Homo sapiens: one gene and its partners. The protein of the gene in region 2 purifies or fractionates together with the protein of the main gene of each other region. This does not show direct contact. Each region holds a gene or a part of one and is shown on either strand. Other genes may lie near its edges. The genes, in order: ISOC1, PITPNA and MLKL.

Evidence for each region.
Region 1: the proteins of PITPNA (region 2) and ISOC1 fractionate together in Homo sapiens (co-fractionation; one large-scale study listed by BioGRID). This does not show direct contact.
Region 3: the proteins of PITPNA (region 2) and MLKL purify together in Homo sapiens (affinity purification with mass spectrometry; one large-scale study listed by BioGRID and IntAct). This does not show direct contact.

What each region holds. Positions count from the first base shown.
Region 1 is NC_000005.10:129,108,118-129,111,766, reverse strand, and holds part of ISOC1 (isochorismatase domain-containing protein 1), read right to left. Parts: intron 1-3,649.
Region 2 is NC_000017.11:1,538,720-1,542,368, forward strand, and holds part of PITPNA (phosphatidylinositol transfer protein alpha isoform), read right to left. Parts: intron 2,922-3,649; coding exon 2,847-2,921; intron 234-2,846; coding exon 150-233; intron 1-149. UniProt on the Homo sapiens protein: Catalyzes the transfer of phosphatidylinositol (PI) and phosphatidylcholine (PC) between membranes. Shows a preference for PI and PC containing shorter saturated or monosaturated acyl chains at the sn-1 and sn-2 positions.
Region 3 is NC_000016.10:74,698,042-74,702,169, forward strand, and holds the start of MLKL (mixed lineage kinase domain-like protein), read right to left. Parts: upstream 2,822-4,128; 5' UTR 2,412-2,821; intron 1-2,411. UniProt on the Homo sapiens protein: Pseudokinase that plays a key role in TNF-induced necroptosis, a programmed cell death process. Does not have protein kinase activity.

The DNA of each region.
Region 1 (3,649 bases), on a different chromosome or scaffold from region 2:
AAGGGGAAAGAAGGGAAGGAAGAGAGCAAAGAACAGAAAGTCGGGGGTAAAGGGTAGAGAGAGGAAAGGAGGAAAATAGAAGAATTCTATAGCACAGATTCATTCTCTGGATTTATGTGTTATCAGAAATCCCAGGGAAAAAAAAGACACAAACTGTTATCACAAAAAGCATATATGTAAAAAGCATGAAAGAGGAAGTGGTTGGAAACAATTCCTAGGTAAGTCAGAGGCAAAAACCCAGGAAGCCCTTGCATAGCCAAAATATCCTTGCAGAGTGTAAGTCAGTCTTCCTTCAATGGCTGTACATCAGCAGACTGAACCTTTCCACTGGCAGACTCTTTATTTTTATCCGTAATGAAGTATAAGGGAGTATAAGCCATAACCTACTTGTCAGAAAGCAAGCTTGGACCTTAATGACCAGTACAGAAAAGGGTGCAGAGCAGCTAACCAGAACTTTGCAGCAATTTTTTAAAAAAAACAAAATAAAACAAAACAAAAACAGCAGCTATTTATGGGGGGGTTGGGGGCCTGGAGTAAGGCCATAAGCTCAGACACACACCAGGGGTGAGTTATCTCTGAGTATTTTTTTAAGACTTCTGGAAGCCCTAATTTCCTCCTCCTTGCTTTATAGTCAGCTGATTAATCATATCAAAACCATTCAAAAATATGAAAAGATCGTGTGCTTGCTTCAGACAGAAAGGCAGATAATAAATATGATAAGCTGCAGTCCAGTTGTGTGAAAACAGCACTGAATGTCAAGTCATTCATGTCCAGCTCTCCCCATCACCAGCTGCCTGCCCTGCTCAGCCCTGCCTTCCTTACTGCTCACTGTTGAATCAATGGACTTGCAATGATTCAGTCTGAATCAAGGACTAAATCACAGGCTTTCAATGTCTGTGAGAGTGCTTTACACTGTATACTCCAATGTGCCAATAAAGGTTAGTTCTCGATAATCTCCCCAGTTCCTTAGTGAGACAGGAAAGATAAATCTGTTCCCAGGTCTAAGGAAGGAATCTGGTGACGCTACAAGAAGCCTGTCTACAATGCCCAGCACTCCCTAGTGCTCTACTGACCTGAGCCTAACAAGCCTCAGTGATGCTGAGACTCAGGTGGCCATAGCAGGGGCAGAGTGGGAAGTGTACATCACAGAAATACATTTTAGGAAAGTGACACCCATACACTATCACTTTGCTTCAAGATTGAAATGTGGCCAACACTGACTGGGTTTTAAAATCATCTAGCCAGGAACCTGTGTTAGGGAAAGGTGTAGCTTAGCAAATGCAATGGTTTTCAATCTGGCTCTTAGCCATTCCCACAATGCCTGCCCTTTCCCAACCAAAGAACGTGCCTGAGCAGAGAAAGAACAGCAGGAGCTTTCCAGACATACCTAGCAAGTCCCTGCCCACCATCCTGACAATGCTGGTCCCAAGTCCACTTTCTCTCCTGGCTTAAAAAGGGGCAGTTAAAACTCCAGCCATTTAATGCACACAGGTACATGTGCATTAGACTTCTGAAGTTCTCCCCTTACACTTGCAAAACTAATCCAACTAGGCCAAAGGAAAAGAAGGATTGCTCTGACCCACAAACCTAAAAAATGCATGTGCACTAAGTCATGAAAGCCTCAGAGAGGGGGGAAAAAGACTAAACCCATTAGATTTCCAAGCAACACTAAAACTCCCCGGAAGTACAAGGACATCAAGGTCAAGAGAGGATTTTATTCTCTTATTCTTCATGCACTCTACAATTGTTAATTGAAAGGAGTAATGTCTTTCAGATGACAAATACCCAGAAAACATTTCTTGAATAAAGCACATGCCACAGACCCTGGTACAGTGAAGTTTCAATAATGCAAACTATGAATCTTAAAATAATCTTAACAGGCAATATAGCTAGTCTTGGGAATTATCTTCAGTAGTTATGTTCTACAGGAATAGAGAGGAAGGGGAGAGGACCACAATGGTATTTTAACTTTCACACTTATGGAAACAAACCAGAACACTTAACATTGCCCCCTTCCTCAAATTTAGGAACAAGGTATATCGCCTCCGTATCAAATCAAGACTAAAAGGAAAAAAATCTGCAATATGGCAGGTGTTCCCTATCAATCACCACCTGACTTATCTATGATCGGTTTTCCCTTTCAACCTCAACACTTTAACCCCAGGCAATGTTGGTGCTCCAGGCCCTTCCAAATCCACCCCAGACAACAGATTCTTTCCCTCCCTTCTCAGAACTTCCAAGAACTAGTCCCTTCTGGGTCTTAGAGGTTATATACTTACACATTTCTGGTGACTAACCACGTGAAGACAACAATCAGTAACAACAAAAAAAGCAGCAGCTAACATCTGAGTATTTACTATGTCATGCACTGTCCTAACTGCTATCAATATATTATCTCATTCCATTCTCACAAAAATCCTATGATCTTGTTGCTATTATCATTTCCATTTCACCAATGAGAAATCTGAGGCATAGAGATTACACAACTTGCTCAAAGTCACAAATTTACAAAACACCAGAACCTGCCTTCAAACCCACATTATCCCCACATTGTGTGGATTCCTAATCCGAGAGATTACAGATTGCCTCTAAAAAGAATGGTTCAGATGGGAATTGTTTTTAATCTTGAGTCTTGTGCAAAGACAGAATTGCCAATCAAAATTTTGTCATTAAGTTGCCATAACAAAGACATATCTAAGAAAATATGAATGTAGGAGAAAAGTCCTTGAAAAAAGTCCTTTTTTACAAGCAAGGAAGTTTGTTTTGTGTTTTTCATTTTTTATTTCCAAAGTTCTGGACCTCAGCATTACAATAAAGGTTTATCCACAGTGGCTGAAAGAGCTGCTGGCTGAGGTGGTGAGGACCTGACAATGAAGTATTTAAACTCAGGTTACCAGGAAAACCTGAAAAGTAGGAATTGATTAACTCATGACTATAAGAATAGATTAAAGGTCTGACCGGGCACAGTGGTTCACACCTGTAATCCCAGCACCTTGGGAGGCCGAGGCAAGTAAATCACCTGAGGTCAGGAGTTCGAGACCAGCCTGGCCAACATGGCAAAACCCCATCTCTACTAAAAATACAAAAATTAGCCGGGTGCAGTGGCAGGCACCTACAATCCCAGCTACTCGGGAGGCTGAGACAGGGAGAACTGCTTGAACCCAGGAAGTGGAGGTTGCAGATGAGCCAAGATTGTGCCACTGCACTTCCAGCCTGGGCGACAAAGCAAGACTCCATCTCTCAAAAAAAAAAAAAAGAAATGGATTAAAGGTCTTTGTTGAGATTGGAAGAAGCAGCAATACTTAGTACCTAACTACCAGATAATCTAATAGCCTAATGGACTTGAAAATAGCTAAACAAAATAAATAATTTCTATTTGTAATCTCAGTATAGGATTCTGCTTCAGCAATAACAGAGAAGGGAGAGCCAATAAGGACCCTAAAACACCTGCTGTGGCCAGCTACCTGCCTGCTTCCCACCACCCTGTGGCCCTGTACTCATCCCTTCTTTCCTCTGATAAGGCCCTCCCCTTTCTCATTTGCTCTACCTTACCACCCTGGGGAACACAGTAGGCTAAAGGGATGAGTTAGCATTCCTACTACAGACAAGGCAGTTCACAGGCCAGACTGTGCATAGAACACTGGAGGGT
Region 2 (3,649 bases):
TCTCCTAATACTCACTTTTAAAAATAAAACAAGCAAGACACATCAGAATTTCCTTTTGTGCCAAGTTGGGTATGGTTTCCTGGTTTCTTTAGCATTGAGAAGTCATTTCTGCGTCTCGAAGGCCACCCACGTCTTTAAACGGATCCTACCTTGCTGAGCACTTGGCTTCGATCTGCAATGTCTATATATACGGCTTCCACGTGTTTCCACGCCTCAGGCTCCAGCTTATGCACCTGTGGGAACAAGTGGGGAACCACTATGCAGTTTTTGTCAGTTATAAAATATCCTTTAGCCAGAATGGACACCTAGGAACTGCCATTCCCATAGCCACAGATGTAAGATTCCTAATGATAAGTAATTATACAATTACATACAAAATTATCCAAAGAAATGGGAGAATGGATTTTTTTTTTTAAGAGATGGGGTCTCACCGTGTTTCTCAGGCAATGGCTATCCACAGGAGTGATCACAGCACACTCTAGCATGAACTCCTGGGCCGGAGTGATCCTCCTGCCTCAGGCTCCTAGTGATCCTCCTGCCTCAGCCTCCTGCCTGGGACCGAGGGATCCTACTGTCTCAGCCTCCTGCCTAGGCCCGAGTGATCCTCCTGTCTCAGTCTCCTGAGGAGCTGGGCCCGAGTGATCCTCCTGTCACAGCCTCCTGAGGAGCTGGGCCCGAGTGATCCTCCTGTCACAGCCTCCTGAGGAGCTGGGCCCTAGTGATCCTCCTGTCACAGCCTCCTGAGGAGCTGGGCCTGAGTGATCCTCCTCTCTCAGTCTCCTGCCTGGGCCTGAGTGATCCTCCTGTTACAGCCTCCTGAAGAGCTGGGCCCGAGTGATCCTCCCGTCTCAGCCTCCTGAGGAGCTGGGCCCGAGCAATCCTCCTGTCACAGCCTCCTGAGGAGCTGGGCCCGAGTGATCCTCCTGTCTCAGCCTCCTGAGGAGCTGGGCCTGAGTGATCCTCCTGTCTCAGCCTCCTGAGGAGCTGGGACTATAGGTGCACAACACTGAACCCAGCTGGATTGTCTGTTTGTCTGAGATGGAGTCTTGCTGCGACGCCCAGGCTGGAGTGCAATGGCGCGATCTCGGCTCACTGCAAACTCTGCCTCCCGGGTTCAAGCGATTATCCTACCTCAGCTTCCCGAGTATCTGGGATTACAGGCGTGGGCTACCACGCCCAGCTAATTTTTGTATTTTTAGTAGAAACAGGGTTTCACCATGTTGGCCAGGCTGATCTCAAACTACTGACTTCAAGTGTTCCACCCGCCTTGGCCTCCCGCCCAGCCCCCGCTGGATTTTAAGTGACATGACTGAGAACGAATGCTCTGACTATTGAGGGTAAACGTCACTTCTGCAGGTCAAAACGCCTTCCGGATGTTTACGGTGCCCACACCATTTCCATGTGTTCCCGGCTGTACAGACTGTAAACCCTTCTAGAGATGGTGTCTGTTTAGCAACATGCTGACCCGCTGTAAAGACTGTAAACCCTTCTAGAGATGGCGTCTGTTTAGCAACATGCTGATTATTTTGATCAGGCTGTACATGCACATAATACAAAATTATGACACAAATTCAAAATTACAAAAGGATACAATATAGAGTAACTAGAGTAACTCCTCTTCTTGCTTGTCCCTCGTCCCCAGTCTAGTAACAGCCACCTCTAAGAGATCCTACATACAAACATCCATGTGCGTGGATTTTTCTTTTAATATGAAGGGCGGCATGCACACACCTTGTTTCATAACTTCCATCCTTCACTGAACAGTCAACTTGAAGACTGCTCTCTATTGGTTTTTCCATGGCTGCAAGGATGTCACTATTTGGCTGAACCACAATGCATTTAACGTTGTCCTACTAACGGGCCTTTTTTTTCTCTTTTTTTTTTTTTAAGACAGTGTCTCGCTCTGTCACCCAAGTTGGAGTACAGTGGCGTGATCTCGGCTCACTGCAAGCTTCGACTCCCGGGTTCACGCCATTCTCCTGCCTCAGCCTCCTGAGTAGCTGGGACTACAGGTGCCCGCCATGAAGCCTGGCTGTTTTGTATTTTTAGTAGGGACAGGGTTTCACCGTGTTAGCCAGGATGGTCTCGATCTCCTGACCTCGTGATCCGCCTGCCTCGGCCTCCCAAAGTGCTGGGATTACAGGCGTGAGCCACCGCACCCGGTCTAACGGGCTCTTATGTTGTTTTTTTGTTTTTGGAGACAGGGTGTCACTCTGTTGCCCAGGCTGGAGTGTGGTGGTGCAGTCACAGCTCACTGCAGCCTTGACTTCCCAGCCTCAAATGATCCTCCAGCCTCGGCCTCCAGAGTGGCTGGGACCACAGGCACATACCACCATGCCCAGCTAATTCTTTTTTTATTTTTGGTAGAGACAGAGTCTTGTTATGTTGCCCAGGATGGTCTTACATTGTTTTTGATCTTTGGCTACACAAAGAAGACTGCAATGAGTCTCCTTGTATATATGTTATTTCACACATGTGAAAATAACTGTCTAAATTCTTGGGCATGGAAATGCTAAAGGATAGGTGTATTTTATTTTTTGGGAGTTACTGCAAATTGTGCTCTATAGAAAACTGTAATTTTGGTCTTTTAAAGATATAGCTCCCATGTACCAGGAACTGCACCAATCCAAGCAGTACGAGAAGGCCCCATAAAAAGTTCCGGAGATCACATTTTGCAAATCAGAGACATAGCAATCCCATGCTGGTAAGATAGGTCTAGGCAGAGGCCACTGCCTTCCCGGCCAGGCAAAAGAGGACCACAGAGAGGACCCCATGGTAGCCCTGGAGAGGCTACAAGGCAGAGACTCAAGACCTCACCCCTGGGGCTTTTGGGAACTACTACTCACATTCTCCTGCGTGCCAAGATCTGGTTTGTGCCAGGTTTCAATTTTAATCAGAAAGTCTTCTTTCATGTACTCATTCTGGAAGAAGGAAAAAAAATACATGAAAGTCACTAGGTTCACAGTTGAGAGTAACCATCTCCCATTACTGGAGATGGGCATTACTGGATCATGGGCAGCTAGGAGATTCCAGCCTCTGCCTTGTAATAACAGTTAACTTGACTGGGAGCCCACGACACACTAGGCATGTATTATCCCATTCAATCCTCACCCCAGCCTGAGAGCTCTGTAGAATCACCCTCATTTTACAGATGAGGTTCAAAGAGGTTAGGTGACTTAACCAAAGTCACAGAGATCGGGCCAGGCATGGTGGCTCACGCCTGTCATCTCAGCACTTTGGGAGGCCGAGGCGGGCGGATCACTTGAGGTCACAAGATCGAGACCAGTCTGGCCAACAGTGGTGAAACCCGTCTCTACTAAAAATACAAAAATTATCCAGGCATGGTGGCGGGTGCCTGTAATCCCAGCTACTCGGGAGGCTGAGGCAGGAGAATCGCCTGAACCCAGGAGGCAGAAGCTGCAGGGAGCCGAGATTGCACCACTGCACTCCAGTCTAGGAAACAACAGCAAGACTCCGTTTCGAAAAAAAAAAAAAAGTCACAGAGATCACGACAGAGTTGGGTCTCAAAACAGTTTCGTCTGACTTCAGAATCCATGCATTTAGCCACTCTGGGTAGTAAGCAGTGTGGAAAGAGCACAGAAGACTTCCTAACCCATCGAAGATACTCACCATGGCCCCTTTCCCTCCA
Region 3 (4,128 bases), on a different chromosome or scaffold from region 2:
AAAAAATACAAAAATTTGCTGGATGTGGTGGTGCTTGCCTGTAGTCCCAGCTACTCTGGAGCCTGAGGAGGGAGAATTGATTGAGGCTGGGAGGTCGAGGCTGCAGTGAGCCATGATTGTGCCACTGACTCCATTCCAGCATGGGCAACAGAATGAGACAGTGTCTCAAAAACACCACCACCACCACCACTAACAAACGACAACAAAAAACAAAGTTAGTTTTTTTTTTTTTAACAGCTCAGTGAAATAGGTAGGTTAAGTATTATCGCCAGTTTATGGATTAATTAGCAGCTTGGAGAAAATAATTGGCCTGGAGCCCAAGTATGGCTTTAAAACATGAGTAAGGCACTGGCAGAAGTGAAACTAAATAAATGAGCAATCGATATAGTTGTGTTTTTGTTGCCTGAGAGTTACAGTGATTGGGCAAGGGAGGTAACAGTTATTAGGGCACTCCTAAAAAGACTAGTGGATCTCAGACTACCCAGCTATTCCCACGTGCTAAGCAGATATCTTCAAGGCCATTTCTTGGGAATTGTGAGGGCAAAAGGTTTTACACTTTCTCTGTTGCACCAGAAACAGAAGCAAATGTGGCAATGTTGTTCAAGGAATCTTGCAAATTGTAGCTTCCTAGCTCTAAGCTCCAGTTATCTTACCAGCAGCCTCATCAGAAAGCCATATCTCAGCACTGAACTAATCAGAAAGGAAAATGGGGAAAATATCCCACCCATAGAACTGACAAACAATTTCAAATAATAAATTATACAGTGGTGGCATGGTATGAAGAAAATTGCAGCGGTCACATTGGCTCATGCCTGTAATCTCAGCGCTTTGGAAGGCCGAGGCAGGTGGATCACCTGAGGTCGGGAGTTTGAGATCGCCCGGCCAACATGGTGAAACCCCATCTCTACTAAAAATACTAAAATTAGCCAAGCATGGTAGCAGGCGCCTGTAATCCCAGCTACTCGGGAGGCTGAGGCAGGAGAATTGCTTGAACCCGGGAGGTGGAGGTTGCACTGAGCCGAGATCACACCACTGTGCTCCAACCTGGGCAACAGAGCAAAACTCCGTCTCAAAAACAAAAACAAAAACAAAAAAAAAGAAAGAAAGAAAATTGCACAAAACAAAGCTTGAAGAAAGGAGGAAAGAGAAGTGTTATATTTCTGGCTGGGAAGACTAAAACAGACCAACCCAGCAATCCTTCCCAAATTTAAATCCAATTTAATGCAGTTCCAATAAAACATCTACTGACATATTTTGGCATTAAATCAAAATGATCCTAAAGTTCATTTGAAATGGGAAATTAGTAGGGATAACCAGGATTTTAAAAAATAAAGAAAAGGGGACTTGCCTGTATGAAATTAAAATATATTAAAAACTGCAAAATATTGGGAAAAAGCACCCTACAATAACTTAAATTGTTTAAGGTCTTATTAAGTATATGATCTACAAGGGAAGAAAGGGAATATACATATATACACACTTAGACTGGGCAATTTGAATTTCTAGGAACTTATGATGTAGAAAAGCTTGTGTTTGTAGATAGATGGCTACCGAGATGTTCACTGCAGTGCTATTTATAATATGTAAAACAAACAGCTAAGAATATGTTCAGGCCAGCTGCAGTGGCTCACACCTGTAATCCCAGCACTTTGGGAGGGTGAGGTAGGAGGATCACCTGAGCCCAGGAGTTTGAGACCAGCCTGGGTGACAAAGCGAGACCCTGGCTCTACCAAAAAATACAAAAAAAATTTAATTGGGTGTGGTGATGTGCACCTTGTAGTCCTAGCTACTTGGGAGGATCTGGTTGGAGGATCACTTGAGCCCATGAGTTCGGAGGCTGCAGTGAGCTATGATTGTGCCACTGCGCTCCAGCCTGGGCAACAGAGGAAGACTCCATCTCTCAAAATAAATAAATAAAAAGAAAAAGGGGATTATGTTCATATGTTACGATGAGAAAACAGGTTACTAATTTTAAAAGTGAAAAATCTTTAAATGGTAATAACAATGCAAATTCACCTCTTCCCTCCAAAAAATAAAAAATAAAAATAAAATAAAATAAGTAAAGGTTATCAGGCATTTCCCTCTTCTCTCTCTCTCACTCTGTCTCTCTCTCACGCCTTCAGCCTGCAAACCTGAAGACTTCCTTTTTCTGAGAAGACATCAGGTAACTTGTTCCCGTGCCCCTGCCCTCCACGACCCCCACTGCTACTGGGCGTCTCGCTTTGGCGGAAGGTAGTGCGAGATCCGAGCAGGCAGCTCCACCATCAGAGCTGAGGAAATGAAACCAACTCGGTCCTGAGTTCCAGGAACTCGGACCGGGCCACCCTCACCCCTGGTTCTTCCCATCACCGTCCAGGAATTCGGCTGCAGCCCCTCGGCCCCGCCGCCTCCTGGGAAGACCCCATGCTCACCTTCGCGCCTCCCGAGGGGTGTGCGTCCAATCTGTCCCGTGCACAGTTCCAAAAAGCTCGCTCTTCCACCTTCTTTCCCACGACCGCCTCCTGCCCAGGCGAGAAGTTTGCAAACGCGAGGCCCGCGGGAGTTCCCCTGCGCCCCCTTTCCTGGTGCCCGCACCCTGCACTCTGCTGACTGTACCGGACGCCACACGTGGCTGGCGGCGACAAGGCGCCCCGATCCCTACCTGAGGGAAACCCCGGCCACTGCAGCTGCACTTGAGCAGGGTCCCTCCACTCAGCCACTTGGATGGCTGTTTCTGTCCAGTGCCCTCCGGAGGCCACTGCCTCAGGTCTGTGATGCCTGCAGAGAATGCTGCGACACTTCCCCCTCCGACGTGGCTCCAGCTGCCAACCACCAGGCTCACGGTGCCCTGGCTCCCTGGAGCCGCTTTCTAGGCAGCTCGGAGCCACGGCCCCTCCCTTCCTTCCTCCTGTCCTTTCCACACTCTTCCTGCCTTCCCCAAAGTCACTGGGTAACTACGCTGTACACGTCAGTACCAAGCCTTCTTTAGGGGCTGGGGATTCAGAATAGAATAAGGTCCCAGCAACTATTATAACCAGGACACAGTATGAGAAGGACTGGAAGTTTAGAGAAAAACTGAAAGTTGGAGAGAAGCTTCTGGTGTTTGCTTCTCTGTGCTGGATAATATTGGCGGGGTGGGGAGGGTACGAGGGAAGAGACACCAAAGTGGGAAAAAAGTCACTTCCTCTTCTAAGGTCATTGCAGAACATCCTGTTACAGTGTGAGTCAGGTTTTCTTAAGATTAACTACATCTTCAGCTAGAAAGTCTAAGTAGTGTTATGCATTTACTCAACAGACTATTTGCCTCTAAAAGAACAGAACTGGGAGCTGGGTGTGGTGGCTCATGCCTGTAATTCCAGCACTTTGGGAGGCGGAGGTGGCCAGATCACCTGAGGTCAGGAGTTCAAGACCATCCTGGCCAACATGGGGAAACCCTGTCTCTACTAAAAATACAAAAATTAGCCAGGCGTGGTGGTGCATGCCTGTAATCCCAGCTACTCGGGAGCCTGAGAGGGGAGAATCGCTTGAAGCCGGCCTTGGAGATTCATTTCTTCGCCTTGCTATTGTTCTTCGTCTCCTGCATCATCAGTTTTCTTCCTGTCTTAGGTGAAGAGATTGAGGTGAGGCAGGAGAATAGGGTCTGCAGGCAGGGAACATAAAGCTGATTCACGCTGACTTCTTAGAACTAAATAAAATGGACACATTTCAGCTATGACAGGAAATATTTTCTTCATTTACATATGGCGTTCACTGAGTAAGTGACTGAGCAACTTCACTTCATCTTCTTCATTTACATAGGGTGTACACCAATTAACCAATGGGAGCCTCTAGAGGGTATTTAAATCCCAGAAAATTCTGTAACGGAGTTCTTGAGCCCCTATGCTCACGCTGGCTCCCACCCTGTGGAGTGTACCTTTGTTTTCAATACATCTCTGCTTTTGTTGCCTCATTCTTTCCTTGCTTTGTGCATTTTGCCCATTTCTTTGTTCAAGATGCCAAGAACCTGGACACCTTCAACAAGTAACACAGGTGCCTGTGATTTATTGAAGGAAGACTCTTAGGAGAGTGGTGGGTATGATAGGGCAGAGGAAGAAAAAGTGAAACAAGTATGTAGTCAGTGGAGGCTCCATGGGGAGGTCTGGAATGTGA